Linked DNA regions of Homo sapiens: regions 1 and 2 are each linked to region 3. The links come from fine-mapping of genetic effects on gene expression. A gene starts in region 3. Each other region holds a variant in brackets. All regions are shown on one strand. Distances are from middle to middle. Region 1 overlaps PLEKHA1 (pleckstrin homology domain containing A1). Region 2 overlaps PLEKHA1 (pleckstrin homology domain containing A1). Region 3 holds the start of PLEKHA1 (pleckstrin homology domain containing A1).

Region 1 (7,561 bases), 50 kb after region 3:
GATGTCATAATTGTTAACACATGGCTCAGCTTGTCTTGTTTCTTCTGTTTCACCACCCACTTCCTGCTTCATATTTTGAGGCAAATCCTAGATGTCTCCCATTTCATCTGTAAATATCTCAGTGTGTATCTCTAAAAGATCATTTAAAAATTTTAAAAATAAGTATAAAAGACTTAAGTGCACAGCCGAAAAATTGGTGAAAATATTTGCAACATGTATTAGAGATAAAACTTACAAGGAATCTTAAAAACTGAGGGGATTTTTCCTCACCTACTTTGCTCTCTTTTCCTTCCATCAATCTGAAATGACTCAGACTCTAATTTATTAGGTGAGGCAAAGCAACATAGGCATCCAAGAGGAACCAGTGTAGCTTTGTGTGGGTGTCAGAGCCCACGCAGGACAAGGAGGCTGTCCTCTTGGGGGGTTAGCCCCACGCGGAGTAGGGAGAGAAGGGCATCCACATGGGGAGGGGTGGTGGCAGAGATGGGAGAATGGTCACATACACACTGATTGATAAAATCAAGAACTATATTAAGGATAATAGAAGCCAAATCTTGTCAGAGAAACAATACTTTTTGGTGAATGGATGTATATCTGTATGTATGATGAGGAATGAAATATTTACATAGTTTCAAAGTACCTGTCTACTAAAATAGGTATTAAGTGTTGTACAAGGGGGAAAAGAATAACATTACAGTGAGGAAACCTGGCAGATACCACTTTACTCAGGTGGTCAGATGATTAAAGTGAATGTCATTGGTAATGAGGTAAATTGAAATCACCTGACAGGATAGTGGAAGACGAAGACAGCATCACTTCTGTGAAATCCCTGCCCAAGGTATGTAATCAGAATCCCATCATGAGGCACACCCAAATGAGGGACATTCTACAAAATAACTACCTTGCAATCTTCATAGAGTGAAGATTATGAAAGTCAAGGAATAATGAGGAACTGTTCCAGACTGAGGGAAAGAAAATATTTGACAAGCAGATGGTATTCGTGCTTCTGAACTGAATTCTTTTGCTCTAATAAAAGACATTTTGGGCACAGTTTTCTGATTCTGATGATTGTATTGTGATTATGTAAGAGAATGTAGGAAAAGTATTCAGGGGTAGTGTGGGACAGGTCAGCAACTCACTCTGAAATGGTTCAGGAAAATCAGTTCTTTATGCTGTATTTTCAATCCTTGTATAAATTCGTGTTTGTTTCAAAGATTAAAAAAAGAGAGAAAATGGAGGGGAAAATACCTGGTAGGCAAATGAACAAAAGACATGAATAGGCAATTCATTTAAAAATTAAAATAGGTCTTAAAATATTTAAAAAAATTCAGCATCACTGATAATTAGAGAAATGCAAATTAAAACTGCAATGAAATATTCTCATCTGTCATGAGAAGGTTGTGGCTGAGTTAAGAGATTGGCAAATCCCCACCCACCCTGCCCAAAAGCAACTGTAAATGCCATTCTGTAAACAAAAGGAATCAGGAACCCTTGGTGATGTGACTGATTTCAGAGCTGGGGCAGATAAAGTACAAGCTGAGCTCAGAAAGTGAAGTTGTGCCAGAGGATAAGGAAGTGGCTCAGAGAATGAATGGAACATGTCAAAAGGACACAGAAATTACCTTGAAGGAGCTGACCAAAATGCAGACAATTTAAACAACAAAATAAGTAATGATAGTAATGGAATATAACCCATAGAATAAAAATGAGTCATAAATAAATAAATGGAGAAGGAAAAATATTTCCTTAGAGTAAAATTCTATTTAATATATGTAGATGGATTGATGGGGTTAGAAAAATCACCATTTGGCAGCCACTAGTAATGGTTTCAGGCAGGAGTTTTCAGGGTTTGATAAAACTAGTTGCAAAATTATGATGGGAAACCTGGTATTACTATAGGTTCCAGGTATCTCCCCACAAGATACTTAACAGTGACAAAGGGAAAAAGTAATTTTACAGCTACTGGCAAACATGACCTTAAGCAACAGATCAGGGTTAACACACCAGTGACAGGACAAGCCACCATCGGGTGTGTACCTCCTAATAGTGGTCCACTGAGAAGAACAGTGTCATGTCTGTGGCTTCCTGTCAAAAGTGTATAAACTGAATCTCAGCACGAATAACAGGCAAACCCAGACTGGGAGGTGTTCTACAAAAATAACTGGCCTGCACTTCTTTAAACTCTGAAAAACGAATGAAGAACTATTCCACAGTTAAAGGCGACATGACAGCTACATACATGGTATGATCCTGGATTTAACTCTGGATCAGAAAATGGTTTTTGTGCTGTAAAGAATACAGGTAGGGCAATTAATGAAATCTGAAGATGGTCTGTAGATTATAGTATTGCATCAGTGTTGAGTTTCCAGTTTTCATAATTGCACTGTGGTTATGCAAGAGCACATCCATGTTTTAGGAAATACACACTGAAGCGTTTAGTAAAGGTACATCATATTTACAACTTAACCTTCAAGCATTTCAGGAATCTATATATATACATATACTCTGTCACACACATATATAAACATAAACAGATAATGATAAAGCAAATGTAAAATATCAACAGTTTAGAAAACAAGGTGTAGGTTATGCAGAAATTCTTTGTACTGTTTTTCTCAGTCTCTTATTAAGTGTGAAATTATTTCAAAATTAAACTATTTTGTAAAACTTTTTAAAAAAGATCTATGATTTTTTTTTTTTTTTTTAAAAAAGCACTCCCAGCTGGGCGTGGTGGCTCACGCCTGTAATCCTAGCATTTTGGGAGGCCAAGGTGGGCAGATCACCAGAGGTCAGGAGTTTGAGACCAGCCTAGCCAACATGGTAAAACCCCATCTCTACTAAAAGTACAAAAATTAGCTGGGCGTGGTGGCAGGCGCCTGTAATTTCAGCTACTTGGGAGGCTGAGGCAGGAGAATTGCCTTGAACCCAGGAGGCGGAGGTTGCAGTGAGCCAAGATCGTACCATTGCACTCTAGCCTGGGCAACAAGAGCGAAACTCCATCTCAAAAAAAAAAAAAACAAAAAAAACAACAACACTCTGTCATGGTTTAGTTTTATTTTTGGTGCTACATAAAGTAATGGTATGTCTTAATCTCACGCTGTCATATTCAATGAAATATGTATATTGTATTTTATGGAATGTATACTAGAAATATGCTATTAGGAACCAGTTTTATATTTGTATCTTATATCTACTTTGTAACCTTGGGTGAGATACTTAACATGTCTAATCTGCAGTTTCAG[C/T]ACATGAATAGTAGTACATGTGTTGTAGGGTTGGGGAAAGTGTGAGATAAAACATTTAAAAGCTAGCAGATGTCTCAGCACTTAGTAAACATTCAATTTTGTATTTATATAAAAGTGATATTTGTAAAATCACAAATTTAAGTCAAAGAAGCAGGATGTGCACTTGCTCTGCTGCCTTGTATATCAAAGTGACATTCCAGAAAAGGAGATGCTGTGCATACTGGTACGTGGGTCCGTCGGGGAAAGTCTGATGGCTAATAGCTTTTAATTAGTTACACTGCCCTTAAGGCCAGAAATAATGTGAATAAGGGCCGTATGCAGTTTTTCTTGTTTCAAACAACAGTGTATATAAGGTTATAGTGTTTGAGCTATTCAGATGCTGGATGGTTTAAGAAGGTAGATTTATTTCTGAGATGTGCTTCAGAAAAGAAGTGTGATTTTCACATGGGTCTTCAAATAAGACAGCTAACCTTTGAAAGGATTTTAAGAATAAACATCATGTAACTGTTTTTTTTTTTTTTTTTTTTTTGCCAGGAAAAGGAACCTCTTCGTGTAATACCACTTAAAGAGGTTCATAAAGTCCAGGAATGTAAGCAAAGGTAAGGAACCGCTCTGACTTGATGCCTGGCACAAGTTATAAACACAGAATAGTGCCTTAGTTTGAGTAATGTACTTACAGATTACATTTTTCCATATTAATTGTAGTTATTTTTAACTCTTTATAGTTGAGATACACTAGAATTTTCAAAACCCTCAGAGTAAAGTATTGAACTACTTTGTTCATTTGAAAACTAAAAATTAGGAAAGAATCGTTTATTTGTTTCTTTGAAAACTAAAAATACAGAAACAGCTTACTAATGGAAAGGAATAAATTTAATGTGAACAACTTATGGTTAGGCCATCAGATTTGACAAATTGATGTATTAAGTGTTTAAAAGATGCAGTAGAATAGAGCTTCACAAGAAAATGTGTTAGCTGTGACAGTGTTTCACCAAACTGATTACTAAAAACTCTGAACTTTAAAGTTGCTTTGTGAACTTTTTCTAAAAGTGAAACTACATGAAATATGTAAAATCTTACATTAAAATAAATGGGAAAAGATAATTTGGGTTTGCTAAATCAGTGCTTTACCTCATTTATTTATTGACGCATACTGGGTACTGGGTAAACAAATGAAAGAGAAACTCAAACAACTGCTATTTAAGTATAATTGGATTTTTTTTTCATACAGCGACATAATGATGAGGGACAACCTCTTTGAAATTGTAACAACGTCTCGAACTTTCTATGTGCAGGTAAGATGCTTATTTGGCAATTAATAGATCCTCCTAAAAAGAAATTAATAATATTAGAGGTGAAATAAACATAAACAAGCTTGTTGCACTTGAGGTTAAAAAAATATGACAACTGTAATTCACCAGCTTAATAAAAGGGTACTGTATATAGAGTTATTGGTGGGGTTATATGTTCAGGAAGTGGGAGTATTTGTTATGAATTAGTGAACTAGAACTAAGTATTTAGAGAAAGGGAAATGCTTTTAATTTAGATGTTAAGTGTGTACTTTCAAGTTGGATTATTTTTGCACATGTTTTAGAATTTTGATTTTTCTATTATATCATTTTTTGGTAACCTTATTAAAAAAACCCATAGTAAAAGTAGACAGTAGATTTATATAGTTTCACTAATAGTAGGCATCCTGTATTTAAGTTTAAATTGTACTTTTTGCATACTTCATTGAATTATTTAAATGGAAAATTTTAAAAAAAGATTTGGGCCGGCTGTGTTGGCTCACACCTGTAATCCCAGCACTTTGGGAGGCCAAGGCAGGCACATCGCTTGAGTCCAGGAGTTCGAGACCAGCCTGGGCAACATGGCAAAACCCCATCTCTACTAAAAATACAAACATTAGCCAGCCGTGGTGGTGTGCAGGCTTGTAATCCTAGCAACTTGGGAGGCTGAGGCACGAGAATCGCTTGAACCCAGGAGGTGGTTACAGTGAGCTGAGATCGTGTTACTGCACTCCAGCCTGGGTGACAGAGACCCTGTCTCAAAAAAAAAAAAAAAAAAAAAATCAAAAAGGGATGATTTGTTTTTGTTTTATTGAAGTTAAATATGCTTATTCCAGAAAACTTGGAAAATATAGAAAGATTTCAGAAAAATGTGGCTTATAAAACATTCAGTCCCACATTGAGGCAACCATTCTTATGATTTTGCTCCCTTTCTTAAGGTATATATTTTTATAATAGGTGGGGTCATACTAAATATAGTGTTATATCCTATTTGTTTCATATATTGTTATTTTTTTCCCATGTCATTAAAAATTATCTGAAAACCTTTTAGAACTGCACCATACTCCATTGATGTTCCACCAGTAAATTGTGTCTGTATTACTCTGTTGCTGTATTGTGTCTGTGTTACTCTGTTCATGTGCATAGTTTTTGTACATTTACTGTAATAAAATGATGAAAAACATCTTTGTGCATTACTTTGCCTGATTTCTTTAGGGTAAGTTTCTAGATCGAGATTAACTATCAGAGCATGACCCTTTCTATTTTGTCAAATTGATTTCTAGAATTGTATTTCCATTAGTAATGAATGAAGTATACTCTACCTTTGGCTACTTGTATTTTTTTTTTTTTTTAGTCTTTGTTAATATTACTTATTCAAAAATATTCTGCATTTTAAACTTTTTCATATTTCTAGATTCTAGAAGTGTAAGGGATTCTAGAATCTAGAAACAAGAGGCAGTATCTCTGCACCCCGATTGGGGCCTTATTTAATTGGATTAATTTCATAGTAAGGTTTAAAATTCACATTGAAAGCCAGACGTATCTGTCAATACTTATTGTAGGATTTAGGGTACTACTAGAAATTATTTCCAGAAAAATATGTAAAAGAATGTCAGAATTTTTAAAAATTACACAACTACATAAATATTCTTGTAGCAGATTCAGACAGTGTAGCAGTAGGTAGAGTGAAATAAGAAGGGTTTTTCTTGGACTTCCTCCTCTCCTTGTTTTCTGTCTGGAGGTATTCATTATTGACGCCTGTTGATGGGTCTGATCTTGACATTGAAGTGCTCAATTTATGTCTCTGTGTAGTTAAGACCTAGCAAAACCTGGCTTTAAAAAAATGATTTCTAAATTTTTTGGAAACAGTTGCCTTAGAGTGATTTTGTTGATGACAGTATTTTAAGTTATCAAAATAAATACATTGGCTGTATAGAAGTAGGTGATTTTGAGAAAAAATTGTTTGAATGAGTTCTTTTTTCCTTTAGGCTGATAGCCCTGAAGAGATGCACAGTTGGATTAAAGCAGTCTCTGGCGCCATTGTAGCACAGCGGGGTCCCGGCAGATCTGCGTCTTCTGTAGGTTTCCTGCTCTCTGGGGTGATACTCCCTTGCGTCTCCCCCATCCTATCAAATTTCCTCTCTCCCAATCCATCCGGTTTCTTTCTTTCTTGAGATTTATTTGCATGTTGACTTTTATACCAATTGGACTTGCAAAAAATAATGCATTTCTAATTTAATGCTTCCTTGTAGTATTATGTATACATAACTTTCTGTGCATTGTATTGTGTTAAATGCACAAGTAGGGCAACTAAAGAATAAACATTTCCTTGCTTTGTTTTAGGAGTTCTTACTTGTCAGTAGCTCTAGATTTGGCATAATCTGACAGATTCTTAGTATGGTGTGTGATCAGGATCATGTAAGACTTTTAGTTGTAGCGTTACACAGTTTTGTGAACGTCTCAATTTCCTCTTTACTTCCTCTGATTTCAGTTCAGGTTTTTTGGTTTTGTTTTGTTTTTTACCTTTGGCTTAACCATGCCATCAGATCACTGAGCAGCTGGGGCCTTAAATACAGTTCAGTGCTCCCAGTGTTTCCATTTCATGTTTTAATTCTCATTTTAAAACCTGCTTTAACAGCCTGCTTCTGAAAACTACCATAATTATCTTTGTGGTAGTATGATAATAAAATTGAAATACAACTAAACATTCTGCTCAGAAATATTTTTTTAAAAGATTTTTCTTGTGTTCAAGTACATAAGAATTAGATTTGCATTTGGAATACTTTGGCCACTGATCTCAGGTCTGAAAATTTAAAGTATCTTAAAATGTAACACTGCCATCTGCGGAAAGTAGTCTCATATGTAGCATGATAGCCTTTATTATCTAGATTTACTATGACATATATGCTAGTTACTTACACTTTTAATATTTTTTTCTGATAGTATTATAATACCGCCTTTTATTAGTTTTCTGGTAGTGATAACTACAGATAAATAAATAGAAATCAATGTTTCTGATTTCTTAGTTGT
Region 2 (7,561 bases), 22 kb after region 3:
TTTTTTTTCTTGTAATAATTTACTTGCTAAAGAAACTTTTTTTTTTCCTTTGTTTCTTATAGTCTGGCTCTTGCTGATTGAATTCCTTTGGTGCAGTTTAGCATGTTCCTCTGTGTTCTGCATCTCCTGTAGGTTGGTATTTGGATATAGAGGGGATCTAAAAAACATTTTTTCTTGTTGCTTTATGTTCACATGATAGGTGATGTTTGTGTCTTCCATCAGGAGGCACATCATACCTGCTTATCTCTCTTTCCAGTACATTAACTAGTTTATTTTGATTCACTTTAGTTTTAACAATTCAAGGGTTTTTTAGAGAGGATGGTGTAGAGCATAAGATAGGAGATCTAGAGTGCGGTAATCTGGATTCAGGCTTTGACTCTTGGCCTACTAGTTTTGGAATTTTGGAAAATCACTTCCCCTGTGTATTAAGTTCCTTATCTGCTGGGGATGATTATGCCTACTCCTAGGATTGTTTAGAAGATTAAAAGAGTTAACATATGGAAAAGAACCTTGTACAGAGCCTAGCATGTAGCAAGTGGTCACTAAATTTTAACTTTTGTTGTTTTGTGAATTTAAAAATATTCTAAAATAATCTAAAGGATAGATTATCTTGATTTGTGAGGAAATTAAAATTTGGATAACTATTTTTTTTGGCTCACCTGGGGTTTTTTTAGGGAAAAAGTAAGTAAATTATTCAGCTGAGGTGAGTAGCTCTCTGTTGTCCCCATCACAGTGAATAAATAGTTACATTTAGTAACCACTCTTCACAAACTGAATTTCAAAAGTGATTTTTGTCAATGCCTCAGATGTTGGTGTGTGTTCATTTTAATTGACCTTACCTAATGTTGGCAAGTTGCCCCCTCATTGAACAGATTTGCAGTCCATGAGAAATACTTTCCTGTTTCATAGGGAGCTTACTGTTAATATTTTTATTTTACAGTGTAATGTTCAAGCTCAGAAATGCCTTATGTGGATCGTCAGAATCGCATTTGTGGTTTTCTAGACATTGAAGAAAATGAAAACAGTGGGAAATTTCTTCGAAGGTACTTCATACTGGATACCAGAGAAGATAGTTTCGTGTGGTACATGGATAATCCACAGGTTTGTAAAATCCCAAGGATTATCTTTTAAAAGCACAGAAAGTTGTATTTAAGTATTTAACATACTATACAGGCTTTAGATTTGTCTTCTTAAGCAGTATATTTTTAGATTTATTTCTACTGGCTGTCCTCTCTGCCCTGCACCCCTGACCTCTACTGTTTTGTTTGAATTTCAGAAGGTGAAACTAAGTTTATTTGATAAAAATTAATGCTTCTGTATATATTTTTCCCTCGAGAGAGAAATACTCTCTCTGGTGGCAAATTAGGTTTTAGAAAATTAGAACTTGAGTCACAGAAAAAAATAACAATTGAAGCTGTCCCAAAAATAAGAAATACTTTTTTTGTAACATGTATTTCAAACAACAGCTAAAATAAAGACCAGGGATAGATGATTTTCTTGCATTAAGGAGGCTTAATACCAGGGTCCCTTTAGTGAGATTAAATTTAGGTTTAAGATGCTGCATCTAGGATAGAGACTATTATTTTTAAATAAATAAATGACTTAACCACATGATACTCTTGCACATATGTAGTCCTTTTATTTTGTAGTGTCAGATTTGAGTCAGTCATTGTAATGCCATCCATGAACTGAAATGCAGTTTGATTTTATTGTTGCCTTGCAAAACACAGGGGTAAATGCTACAATTTAAAAAATTGGAATCCCAGCCTTAAGAGGCCTGAGATTAGATATCATCTGTGAAGTAGTTTTAAACTTTCAACTTTCTCTACTTTTTTTTTTTTTTTTTTTTTTTTTTGAGATGGAGTCTCTTATCACCCAGGCTGGAATGCAGCGGTATGATTTTGACTCACTGCAGCCTCTGCCTCCTGGGTTCAAGTGATTCTCATGCCTCAGCCTCCCGAGTAGCTGGGACTACAGGGGTGTGCCACCACACCTGGCTAATTTTTTGTATTTTTAGTAGAGACAGGGTTTTTCCGTCTTGGCCAGGCTGGTGTTGAACTCCTGATGTCAGGTGATCCTCCAGCCTCAGCCTCCCAAAGTGCTGAGATTACAGGCATGAGCCACCGCGCCCGGCCTTTTGGAACTTTTTATCTTCAAATAAAAATTGGTGTAGAAGTTAAAAATGGGGTTGTATGTTGCAAGGAAGTATGTGCAAAGCAAGGGATGAATCTCTAGCAGACTTCTAAGCTGATTTTTGTCCAGTAGGCTTCTCGTGTGGGTGAGGAATGGAAGGTCTAGGGAAGAGCAGAGACTTATACAAGGTTCTGTTCTGTTTCACAGAGCAGGAACTAGGTCTGCTGATAAGTAGTCTAGTATTCTTCACTATATACTGATTTTAGATTAGACAAGATATATATGTGTCTATAGTAGATACTAATGTGTGTATGTTTATTTATGTAGAATTTGAGTTGTAAGGGACCTCTCCTCACCCATATGAGCCATTGCACAGTTCTGCCTATTTTCTCTCCCTGATTTTTCTCTCTCTTCACAAGGTCTGGTTGACATATGTATGGTTTCTCCTGAATTTTACTTGAAGCTCCTTGATTATTTTTCTGTGTTCCTACATAATAGATTCTTCTTGTCATTCTTCCTTTATCAGTACTACCCATTTAGCAGAGCTAAAAGGAGTTAAGTACAAAATAGAATATATTTATTACCCTGAATAAAACTTGAACTTGGAATTCAGAGGAAAGTTACACAGCTAGTAGAAGGAGTTGAAGTCTTCATGGAAGTGGTAACATTTGAAATTGACTTAGAAGTTTGGATATAATATTGGCTAAGAGATGGAAAAGTTGAGTATTCCAGTGCTCAAAGAACAGTGTGGGCAGAGATCAAAGCAAGAGAGCCTATGGCGTGTTTGGAGACTAGATCACTTTGGCTATAGCACTCAGCTAGGTCTTGTCCACATAAA[CTT/C]TTAAAATCCAGATCTCTATGTTAGAATTAATGCATTGGCTTTTCTGGACACAGTGCCAGTTTTTTTTTTAAGTACAGAATTTAAATATTTTTTAGTTTGTTCTTATTAATTTTATATCTTCTTTCCAACTTAGGAAATCTTGATTCTGCCAGCCAGTGTATTAGCCATTAGTACCAACTTGGTGTCACTTTTAAATGTAATAATCAAGACATACCTACTCTTGAAAACTTTAGTAAAATGTCTTGCTAAGATTATTATATTATTTTCTTTCTTTATCAAGGTTATTATGTTCAGTATAACCGTGTTATTGCATCTTGACATAAGCAATTAGATTGAACCATATGAAATTGCTAATATACAGCCATTTTGAATTACTAAAAAAATGGCAATGTCATATGGTTCAATCTAGTTGCTTATGTCAAAGTATAATAACATGGTTATACTGATCATAATAACCTTGGTAAAGAAAGAAAATTAGTTTGATTCCTCTATTATTAGGAAGCCACTTCTTCCCCTGACCACTGCTTCCTTTACCACTAACCATGGGTTTAAAAATTCTTTCTAGTGTTTATTAGGGATCACTTTGGGGCTTCCTGTGTTTTGTCCAGGAGGTTGGTAATCATGGAGAATGAAATAATTAAGTTGCTGTACGAGGGAGTGCATTTGAAGATATTCGAAAAAGTATTTGGCAAAATGAGTTTAGGAACTCATAATCAACAAATGGCCTATTTCCCTTTTTTTCTTAAATGTTCTATTAGTTTGTTATTTCTTGTTCATTGTCAAGTAACAAATTTTGAATCTCATTTTTTTCCAGTCGAACCTGATGGTAATCATACTAGTCCACAGAAACTGCGTATTTTGAATATTGTTTTTCTCTCAGCTACTTAAATTTCCCCATAGTGTACTACTATTACTGTGACACTTTATGTCATGCTTTGGTTTCTCATTTGTCTTCCTTCCACAAAGGCTTAGAGCTCTATTCAGCAGTTAAAATAATAGGCTCATGAAAAACTGAAAAGAAATAAATTATTACCCTTAAATGGAAGGGTAACAGTTTTTGAAAAAATCACTTTGGTGGTAGTTAGAGATTCTTGAAGACATATTTACATTTCTTTTCCTTCTTTAAAGTTAAAAACCAAAAACCCATAAATCTAAAACGTTATACATAAGAATACAAATAGCTTTTTAATGTTATACATTAATGAATTATAATTTTATTTTATATGCATATTTACTATTGATGATTTATATTTGGAAGCTTGTACGTAGTATATAGTTTAAAGCAGAACATAATTAATGGAGTTTTACAATATATAGGTGTGAAAGTTTTTAAAAGATCTGTCCCTGTCAACAATAAGCAGTTCATGTTTGGGACTCTTAAGTCTTTGAAATGTCTAGGCTTCCAGTTACCTCCTAATCATTCATTAGAACAAGCCAATAGATTTTTATATTTTTAAGTACGTTATTATAAAGTCAGTTGAAAAGTTGATCCTGTCTTATCTCCAGCAGAAATAATTTTCAAAATCAACTAAAACTAATGTTTTCATTTTTACTTCTGAAATCTTCTATCAGTCTTTTATCAGTCTTCTATCATAGAAATGAAATTTATATTCTTGATTTGTTTTCCCCAGATTCTTTTGTCTGGTTTTCCTACCTCTATCTTCCTCTTCTATAATCCCTTCAGTTTATTATAAGATATATTATAAAAAGAGCATAATTTTGATTCCAGATCTGCTCATAAGCCTTCTTCGTTGGCCTCAAATTCTCTACGATATAAATTCTTTGCTACTTTTTTATTTAGGTCCTCTATGATTAGGTTCTCAGTTCAAGTTTTCAGACCACCATTTTGTACTACAATCTTACAGGACACTGCATTACAGCCCCACATAGCCCCCCTCTCTCTTTCTAGTACAGAGCTGTGCATCTTCCATTGTTTGCTATAGTTTGTCCATTTTCTCTGCTTGGAATATTCTCCCCTGCTTTTTGTGTTTCAAAATTTTCCTTAACCTCCAGCCTAAATGTTGTTCATCACTTCAGTCTTTCTGGATAGCTTCAACCAGAGATGATTCTCCCTCTATGTTTACCTTTAGCTCTTTTGATGCAAACCACATCTGAAACTTACGGGAAGAATGAAAATACTGTGTGTGAAAGTGCCTACATTCCCTGCATATGATAAAGAGAAGCAAACATTTTTTTGTGGAAAAAAAAGTATCAATGTAGATTAATATGGCATAAAAAACAGTAAACCATTTAAATGGGGGGAAATGCAGTCCATTTTTGTCAAGAGATACTTGATAAAGAAATTTTAATAGAACAAAGTAATATGTATAGTCTTTTTAAGTATCTTACAATTATATTTGTTTTCTGCCTGTAAATATTTCCCCCTTGCTTTCAGGAACAAAATCTGATCTTGTTCATGGCTTTTTAAGCTCATGAGAAAGTATTAGTTTAGCTCCAGTGATAAAAATAGCCTTTTAGTCATAGAATGCATGATAATGGAACAGAGTAGGATTCAGTTTTGTTATCCAAGCTATGGACTTGATTTCAGACCTAGTAAAAATTTGAACAGAAGAAAAGTTCATTTGTAAAATGTGATATTAAAAAATTGAGTTTTTAACTTTTCAGAAGTATATGTGGAACATTATATTATAAAATGAATTCATAATATTGGATATTAAGTATATATTAATACTTTGTTTCTAGAACCTACCTTCTGGATCATCACGTGTTGGAGCCATTAAGCTTACCTACATTTCAAAGGTAGTCTTTATACATTGTCTTATACTCGTGTGAATTAAAATCCCTGTGAATGAGAGTATGAATAGAAGCAGCAGTTTCCTTTCCATGTCCTTTAACAGTGATGTTCAGATTCCTATCATACTGAAATGGTACCTGATTACTACGTTTAGGAAATTCTTTAAATCGATACAGTTATGAAGAATATGATTTTAACTTACAGGATGTGGCAAATTGCAAAAGTTAACATTAACTTTTATGATCAGGTATATGAACATCAGAAAGGGAGAAATCAGTGAAACAAATTCTATCTTGAGAAAGTCTGGAGATTTTTCTAAGTCTGTATTATGTTTATTTAGACTGTTTTCAACTTTTAAATCCCATTGTCTTTGATACTTTGTTTCTTAATGTTTTATTTTGAGGAAAATATGGACCATTTTCATGTTGAAAGGATGATTTTCCCCCTCTTTTCACTTTGTCTCTTTTCATTTCTGTTTTCTTATTTGTTTTTCTGGTAATTTTGCAATACTATTTTTTATTTTTTAAAATTTTGATTTTATGTTTGTCAGGTACATTTTTTTCTTATTTTCTTCTATTAATGTTTAGGGAACTAAGTGATGCTGAGGTGCTAACCCTATGGGTTTGTGTGTGTGTGTGTGTGTGTGTGTGTGCATGTGTGTTACATAAAAGTAATAAAAGTTTGTTGATTACTTATATATGAGATGCAAAAGGTAGCAACAGTATTATTAAATAATATGGGTACTGTTATGCATATACTGAGATCTGTTGGCAAAGGTAGATCACTTCAACAGAAGACCAATTTACAAATGTGCCTCTGTTTAGAAGATAGATGTTATATAAATAAAATACTTTATATTAGTATTACAGTAGAGGTATTCATTCTCATTGACCAAAAAGAAAAGAAAAGAGCCCTTGGACAATAAAGATTACACATTTAAAAGGAAACATTTTTCTGTTAAGATCATACTATGTAAATTTACATACGACAAATATTGTATGGAAGCTCTTTCTTGAAATCAGTAAAGTAGGTGGGGTAACTGGCCAGCTGCTTTCCTCTCCTCCATTGCTCTTCTTTTAAAATAGAACCTTTTTTCTGTGCAGTTCTGTAACTTTCATCTTGTCCTCCTGCTTCCTGAAGTTTAAATTGTGCAGTTTGTACTCTACTTTGGACGTACCACTTTTTTTCCAAAAAAAAATTTATTGTTCCAAAAATTTATTTCTGGAACAAACTTTTGTGTGACTCAGAACTGTGAGTTTGTAGTTGGGATCAATGAGGAACCCCAGGCTTAGAATTCCTTTTGAAGGTGCAAAACGGATGCTACAATTATAAGTTCTATCACTGGACAACAGCATGGCAATAGTTGTGAATGAGCTTCTGGGAGGTACTTGATTTAAAGGGATAGCAGCAACCAAATGCAGCTAGTTGCCTCATCTTCTAAAATGAACCATGAGCTGCATTTAATAAAGTGATCCCATTATCCTAGGGCATTCTCCTGTACAAGAGAGGATCCAGTCCCATTTTGATCTCCTCATAGCAGATTAATGTCTTAATCTTAATTATTAAGATTAAGATTAATTCAATTAAATGCCTGGATTTGTGGACTTTATTTTTATTTTTATTTTTATTTTTTGAGATGAAGTCTCACTGTCTCCCAGGCTGGAGTGCAGTGGCGCGATCTCGGCTCACTGCAAGCTCCGTCCCCTGGGTTCACGCCATTCTCCTGCCTCAGCCTCCTGAGTAGCTGGGACTACAGGCGCCCGCCACCATGCCCAGCTAATTTTTTTTTGTATTTTTAGTAGAGACGGGGTTTCACCGTGTTGGCCAGGATG
Region 3 (7,561 bases):
TTGTTTTTTTTCCTGTGTGGGCCTGGAATTTGGGCTGGTTGCTGACTTTTTCAGAAATCCTATTCTTCCACCTTGGTAAGCATAAAATGTGGACAATCTTTCGTGGCACCTTCCTGAAGGAGGATTGTTCTGCCCCAGCCCTGGGATGCAAGAATTAGCTCCAGAAGGAGACTCCAGTCACCTGATTGGTAATCTGGGAAGGTCACTTAATCTGTGCCTGCTTGGGGTGATTACTGAGAATCATGCTTCCCCTCACTTGGTCATTGCCAGTTGTGAGGCAGGGTCAGAAAGCCAGCTCCGACTCTTCACCCACAGAAGCAACTCCACTGACTCGCTGCCTGGAGTTCTTGTGCCATTTTTACACTAAAAAATAGGGAAAAGCCGTTTTTAACTCTCTGCTACCCAGTTTCTGGAGGGGACACAAAAAGAACAAAGCCGGGTTCAGAGAGTGTTCAGTTCATGTTTAATTCTTGTTCTATCTTGGTTCTGATTTCTGGTTAGAACAGAGGTTTGCTTCTGGAGGTACTCCTTCTGCTTGGCTTCTGATGCTGGCTCTGTCCATAAAGGGGACTGTGGCATTCATCATTCAACACATACTTCTGTTGTAGGCACTAAGGATACAAGCAGGAACAAAACATAAAATCCCTGGCCACGTGGAGGTTACAGTTTAGAGGGATATGCAGAAAAAAAAATATATATGCACATATATAATATGTACAAAAGTGACCATTGCTAAGGGGAAAAAGATAATGCAGGAAATGCTGCAGACATCAAATATTAGAGAGGTGACTAGCATTCAGGAGCTTTCTGCGTGCCTCTGTACGCTGCTTTTTGTGTTGTCAGAGGGGCTGACGTCTGTCTGGAAGCCCCAGAGCCCAGCACTAAGCATATGGAAGGGGCCCAAGAGCTATTTTTGAATGAAACATCAACGTACTTCACACGTGCAAAGCATGATGATAATGATGACAGTGATACTTTAAAGGTAAACTGCAGGCTGGGGCAGTGGCTCACACCTGTAATCCCAGAACTTTGGGAGGCTGAGGAGGGGGGTAGATCACTTGAGGTCAGGAGTTCGAGATCAGCCTGACCAACATGGAGAAACCCTGACTCTACTAAAAATACAAAAATTAGCCTGTCATGGTGGCAGGCACCTGTAATCCCAGCTACTTGGGAGGCTGAGGCAGGAGAATCACTTGAATTCAGAGGCAGCGGTTGCAGTGAGCTGGGATTGTGCCACCACACTCCAGCCTGGGCGACAGAGCGAGACTCTGTCCCTTCCGGCAGAAAAAAAAAAAAAAGTAAACAGCTAAACTATAGATCCTTGAATTCAGACTCCTCCTTTTTCTTCAGATGAAAAGTAGCCATGGAATATTCCAGCATTCCTCAGTGCCTTCAGTGAGTCCTGAGTGTTCTTGGTTTGCTCCCAGACTGTAATTTCCCTGTACTATTTTTTTTTTAAATAGCACTGAAAGCACTGTTATGTAATAAACCTCTGCATCCAAAAAAAAAGAGGCTGGAAGAAAAGCAGAGAGCTTTTTTTTTTTGTCTCTGTATTTATTGGCTGATCGGGAGCTATGAAGTTCTGGTTATACTGCAACCTCAAAGCAGTCCTGGGATTATCTTGTTGTGTGTCCTTGGGCAAACTGAGTTACTTTTCTGGCTTTCTTTACTGTATGTAAATATGGCTCTCAATGATAAACAGTTTTGGGGACTTGTTATGCAAAAAGAACAAAGGAGCAATTTTTTTTTCTTGAGTCCCGTTCTGTCCCCCAGGCTGGAGTAGAGTGGCACGATCTCAGCTCACTGCAACCTCCATCACGTGGGTTCAGTTGATTCTCCTGCCTCAGCCTCCCGAGTAGCTGGGACTACAGGTGCCCACCACCATGCCTGGCTAAGTAGAGGGGGTTTCACCATGTTGGCCAGGCTGGTCTCAAACTCCTGACCTCAAGTGATCCGCCCACCTTGGCCTCCCAAAGTGCTGGGATTACAAGCAGGAGCCATCACATTGGCCAAAGGAACAATTTCAAACCACTCATCAATGATGTCAAACAACATTTAGGAGAGAGATCCGGCGGGTCCAGCCTGGAGAGGGTGAGAGGCTCTTGGCCTAAGTGTTCTATTCTCAGGACCAGTATTTTCAGATCAAATAAAAGATGTGAATTTGACTTTGAATTTCAAATAAACAAATTTCCCATCTGGAATCTTCTAGGATTCTAGCACTGACAAGCTAGAGACTCCTTCCAGACCTTCTAGCCAGGGAAGGCAAACTCAAATGCCTACAGGGATAAGACAGGTGACACCTAGATTTTTATTTTTAAATGTTAACCACACATTCAGTTAAATCAACAAAAACCCACTGTGTGGACCAAAGGAAACAATCTGCTCTGGCTACTTTATAAACTATAGTGAGGCCAAACCCTTTCAACCATTATACAGATGAGGACCCCAAAAGGGACAGATGTCAGCAAGGCTGCATAGCTAAGGTTTCTCAAAAGATAACCAAAATATCACGTTGGATGAAAGGCAATTGAAAATGCTAAGTCTCAAAGAGGCAGTCAGAGAGCCGTTCTATGCAGTTTGCAAGATGTTTTCACCTCCATCAATTTATCAGACTCTGAGAACATTCTGCAAGGCAGGCAGGGTGGATGACACTCATTTACAGTCGAGGTCACTGAGGGTCAGAAGGGCAAAGTGTCACTCTCTGCATAAAGTCACATAGGTAAGTCTACACAGGAAAATCTAGGGCTGTTCTTCACTACACCTCTGATTCAGATAACAGGTAGGCTTCCTCTAAGATTTTAATAAAGACAAACTCAAAATCCTGTATGATGCCCCATGAAGAGAAACAAGTCAGGAGGCCAGGCTGAGCCCCCAGACTTCTAACCCAGTTCGCAAATAAAGAAAGTGGCAAAGTAGATAGATTCCAGCCTGTCACCAGGGTTGTGTCTTCTGTCCTAGCAGCTGTACAGCTTGTCTTACCACTGGACATTTGTTTCATGTACATTTTCACATAGGAAGGATATTCTAAAAGATGTTGATAAAGATTTTTTAAAGGGTTTGAAGGGGATAGGATGTGATCTAAGGTTGTGCAAGGAGAGGAAAGGAAGAAGCACACAAAAAGAACAAATATTTATTAAGAGCCTAGAGTGGCATGCGCTGTGAAAGGCGTGGCATGTAATTCTTTCCCAGTTCTTTGCCTGTCTGAATATTTCTCATTCTTCAGGTTTCAGCTCAGATATCACATCCTCAGAGAACTTGCCTTGCCACTCTCTCTGAAGAGCCTCCCCCCGTCCCCGCCACCGCTACTGTCTCTTGAACTTTCTCAGTCTGGCCATTCTATTAAAATCTGGAACGATTTTGCTAGTTTGCGGACGAGTTTCCCCCAAGCTGCAGGCTCCATAAGGGCAGTGACAGTGTCTCTTTCTCAGATGAATGCCGGGTTGCCTATCGCGTACTTGGCACACAGTTAAGTGCTCGAGAAATTGCTAAACACTCAACGAATATTTACCAGAATACATATTTATGCTCCACCGTTGCTGAAAGAATTTCGACTAACCCTTCTTTAAGTCTCTCTTACCCTCCTGTACTATTAACACCATTGTAAGTAGGCAGTGGAGCTACATTTGCAGGGAGAGAGAAGAGCGAAAAATTGGCGCGCAGAGCTGTAAAGCGTTTTTCTCCAGGTCACACCGCAGCCTGTAAATTTGTGACACTTGGACCGATTATGGGACAGCTTGCAAACAAATTATCTGCAAACTAACGAAGCCTATTTTTAAAGATCCCTGTTCCTCGCAGCTCTAGGCGATGACATCAGAGAACCCGGAGTTCTACCTCCGAGCCAAGCCCAGTGGTGGTCAAAAACTACGAATACCAGGAAGCACCGCGGCGCGGCGGCCCAGAGCTCCGCGCGCAGGCCTCCCCGGCGCGCCGAGGCCGCCGCCGCTGGAACCAGGAAGACGCCAGAAACTCGGCCCGCCACGCCGCAGGGACCCGCGCGGGGCCTGCCGGGACTCGTAGTCTCTGCGGGCTGGGAGCGCCCGCTCCGGAATCTCAGCCGCCGTCTGAGGGCTGAGGCAGCGTGGGGACGCGTGCGCAGTGCGCGGGCTGGCCGTCGCGGACGCCGCTCCGGGCAGCCGAGCCTCTGTGGGAGCCGGGGCCGCGGCGGCGCGGGTGCTCCGGGCCGAGGCCGCGGTAAAGTTTAGCTTGAAGAACGCGGCCGCGCTGGAGCAGGGGTGGTGGACGGGGCCAGGCGCGAGGTGGCGGCGGCTGCGGGGCTGCCGGGCTGCTGGAGCGCGGTTCCCGCTGTGGCGAGCGGGGAGGCGTCCGCAGAGGGGCGGTGGGTGCTGGTGAGTGCGGAGCCGGCGCCCCCTCTGCGCACGTCCGCGCCACGCGCCACAGCACCTGGAGGCCGCCGGGCCGGCTCACCTGCCCTGGCTTGGGGCAGCGGGAGGGGGCGGCGTCTTCTTCCCGTGGGTCCCCGATTGTTTTCCCGACGTCAGCCCTCAGCGGCGCCCGGCGGGGGAGGGCGGGAGGCCCGCGGCGGTCGCGGGGCCGACGAGCTCCTCGGCGTCTCCGCCCCCCGAGAAATCCCGCTCGGGGCGCGGTGCGCGCAGCTGCCCGGGGATTCCCGGTGGCGCCGGTCGGAGCGCCTCCCTCCAGGGCTGTGCCCGCGGGGCGCGCGTCCCCGGGCATCCTTTCCTGGTGTTTAATGCATTTTGGCTTCAGGACTTGCCGAGGCCGAAGCCGGCTCCGCCCTGGGCCCTGAAGTCGGGCGGTGTCCGCGATTTACCTCCGCACCTTCGGGGCAGGTGGCCAGAGGCAGCGTTGAAAGCGACTTGCCCAAGGTCACGCAGGTGGCACCGGGGAGGCGACCAGACCCAGGTCTTTCGACGCCGAGGCCAGCTGCCAACCGCAGAGCTTTGGGGCCGTCTTGAGTGGTTTGTGGTTTGTTTCAGATGCTTTCTATTGACCTCCTGGAAAGAGGGGAAAGTGTGTCATAATGAAAGCGGTCCTGTTGCTTATAGTGTTTACCGCCTTTGGTAGAATTCTGGTGAGGCTGTGCCCCCGCGCAGAGCATCTACCGTGGTCTGGGCGTATAAATAATGAAACTCCTTTGCTCTCTGGGGGCAGTACAAGAAGAGGTTCAAGGAACAAATAAATATCCAGGCAGTTTCTGCGTTTTCCTCGTCTGTTTGTTTCACCTTCCAATTCTGCAGTACTGGTTTTCTTATTTTACAATTGATCGTTGTTTTAATAAGATTTTCTTTGTTTTAATGAAGTCATTGCCCCTTGTGAGTTAGTTTTCTAAATAGAAAATCTTATTTCCTGTGTGTTTAATGACTGGAACAAATAGTGCACTATGAGGTTTACACCATTGTCTTTCATCTTAGAACTCCTGATCAATCTGCTTTATTTTCCCAAGTACTCAGCTTGCATACTTTCTATGTTAATTTGATGCCACTGAAACCATTTACAGCAAAGTTTGGGTAAGAGTTATGTGATTGTTTTGTGAAACTGTGTTTTTCTTCACAATCTGAAGAACTTGAAGACCCGTTATATTAAAATAATAAGATTTATTCTGATCAAAATACCTGTTTACTTTTCATGCTCTTAATTTTTCCTGTTGACACACTTGTGGCAAAAGAAATATTTCCCCTAGTGGAGTTAAAGTATTTTTTATCTTGGCCAATTTTCCCAAGGAAAATTGCATTTTAGAGTACTGATACATTTAAAAAAGAGTATTTAAGTTTGACAGAATTTGAATTAATAAAGTAGTTAATTTATTTTATACTGCCGTAAACCTTACACTGTATCTACTGACAGTTTTCTCTTGTAGCGTATACCTGTATCAAGATATATGGCTGTGAATTTAGTGACATTAAGAAGATATATATATATATATATATATATATATATATAATATAAATATATGTGTATACACACCGCGCGGGCGCGCGCAGAGCTTCCAATCTTTATCTTGTTAATTAGTATTTTCATTGTCGCTTTGGGAGGGGGGAAAGTAGCAGGTTTGTATCTTTTTTTCTCCCCAGTTTTAGCAGTGTAACAAAATAGGAAAGATGGTGTGTAAAATTGAGTTTGTCATAGACTAGGAGAGACAGTGAAACAGGATAAGTATACAATTGTGAGGAAACTGCCATGAGTTCATAAGCCGGAAGGACCTTTTTAGAAGTGTTTAAGGATGTTAAGAATAGCATTGGATTCTTTTCTTTAAAAGTCATTCAAGTATCGTTTGCTAACATATAGGATATGACAATATTGACCACTCCTAGGAAGATACTTGGGAAAGGTGGAAACATTTTACATTTTTATGGGGACTTCCCCCCACAAAAAACATTTAATGGAGATTTAAACAAAGTGGCTTTTTGACTTAAGCCTGGAAGTTCTTTATTATTATTAGTCATGCTGCAAATCCCGAAGTTATTTTAATTGTGTGATAATTTGTAACCCAGAATGAAATCTAATAAATAGTTTATTAATATAATTTAAGTCATACTTTGACATTGACATATTGCTTGATGTCAAGTCATTATTGTTTAAATAACTTATTTGAGAATGGGGAAGATAGTTTTCTGAATATAGTGTAGTAATTATTTGTGACAATAGTAACATTGCTTTTATTAGAAAATTTTGGGTTGATATAACTAACTGCCTTAAAGTATTTCCTATTTGATTCCAACTGTGAGCTGAGGTAATATGCAAATAATTACTTTTCTCATGCTGGAGCAGTTTACTTTTGTTAATATTAAAATTTAAATTTCAAGATTAAAAAATCTTGTTTTAGATCTGCAATGATACAATAAAATGACTTCAATAGGAGTTAAATATTAAGATTTGGTTTTAGGTTTTTTGACCATTTGTGAGTACACATCCAGCATTTAAGAATTTATTGACATGGTGTCTGAAAGGAATGCTTTCAGAAAGGGCAGAAAACTTGGTAGCTTTAGATGATTGTTTATAATGCTTAATTATTTTTAGAAACATAAAAATATGGGATGTTTTTATGTAAACATAAAGCATCCTGTTATTTGTTATAGCACTAGAACTCTCTTACACTTACTGAGCAATATTAAACCATTTGACCCTAAGTAACTTTTTTTCTTGTGGGTACTGTCTAATAAGGGATATGTGAGTTTGTGATTCCTAGAAGATGCTTAAGCAAACATATGTTTGCTATTTATTTTAGTAAGCCTTTTAATTAGTTGAATTGATAATATTCAGGAAGATAGGGTTTTTGGGATTTTATAAGCTTTCTTTGAACTGGAATTTCTGTTGGATATAAAAGAAAATTAGTCATTTAAGATTTTTTTAAGTTAAATAAGTTTTAGAGCAAAATATTGTTTCCTACATGGAACTCTTACCAGGCTTGTCAGTCTGATAGCTTTATTCTCCAGAAAGTTGTGGTTTTTAGCCCTTTAGGCAGCCTAGCCTTTTATGGTTTAACCATTGAACTCTAGATTCTGGATTGAATTTAACCTCTTGAAGGAAAAGACGATCACAGGCACTAGAATTGGAAGTGATGTCAGAGGGCTTCTAATGTAGC

Evidence for each region. PIP is the estimated chance that this variant, and not a neighbour inherited with it, causes the effect. A credible set is the group of variants that fine-mapping cannot tell apart.
Region 1: its variant is the best candidate, but not a certain one, in a credible set for the expression of PLEKHA1 in whole blood (INTERVAL, PIP 0.59).
Region 2: its variant is the best candidate, but not a certain one, in a credible set for the expression of PLEKHA1 in blood mononuclear cells (TOPMed, PIP 0.54).

What each region holds. Positions count from the first base shown.
Region 1 is chr10:122,420,423-122,427,983 of GRCh38, forward strand. It overlaps PLEKHA1 (pleckstrin homology domain containing A1), which reads left to right. Exons shown (of 12, transcript NM_001001974.4): 9 at 3,777-3,841; 10 at 4,474-4,537; 11 at 6,520-6,609. Among named protein-coding and RNA genes, the nearest start is that of MIR3941, 7.2 kb to the left of the region's middle. The variant C/T (reference allele first, on the strand shown) is at 3,243.
Region 2 is chr10:122,392,241-122,399,801 of GRCh38, forward strand. It overlaps PLEKHA1 (pleckstrin homology domain containing A1), which reads left to right. Exons shown (of 12, transcript NM_001001974.4): 2 at 941-1,101; 3 at 5,678-5,734. The coding sequence starts at 961. Among named protein-coding and RNA genes, the nearest start is that of MIR3941, 21 kb to the right of the region's middle. The variant CTT/C (reference allele first, on the strand shown) is at 2,972.
Region 3 is chr10:122,370,616-122,378,176 of GRCh38, forward strand. It overlaps PLEKHA1 (pleckstrin homology domain containing A1), which reads left to right and starts at 4,093. Exons shown (of 12, transcript NM_001001974.4): 1 at 4,093-4,191. RefSeq lists silencers at 3,801-3,950, 4,091-4,200, 4,241-4,310, 4,331-4,490, 4,501-4,700.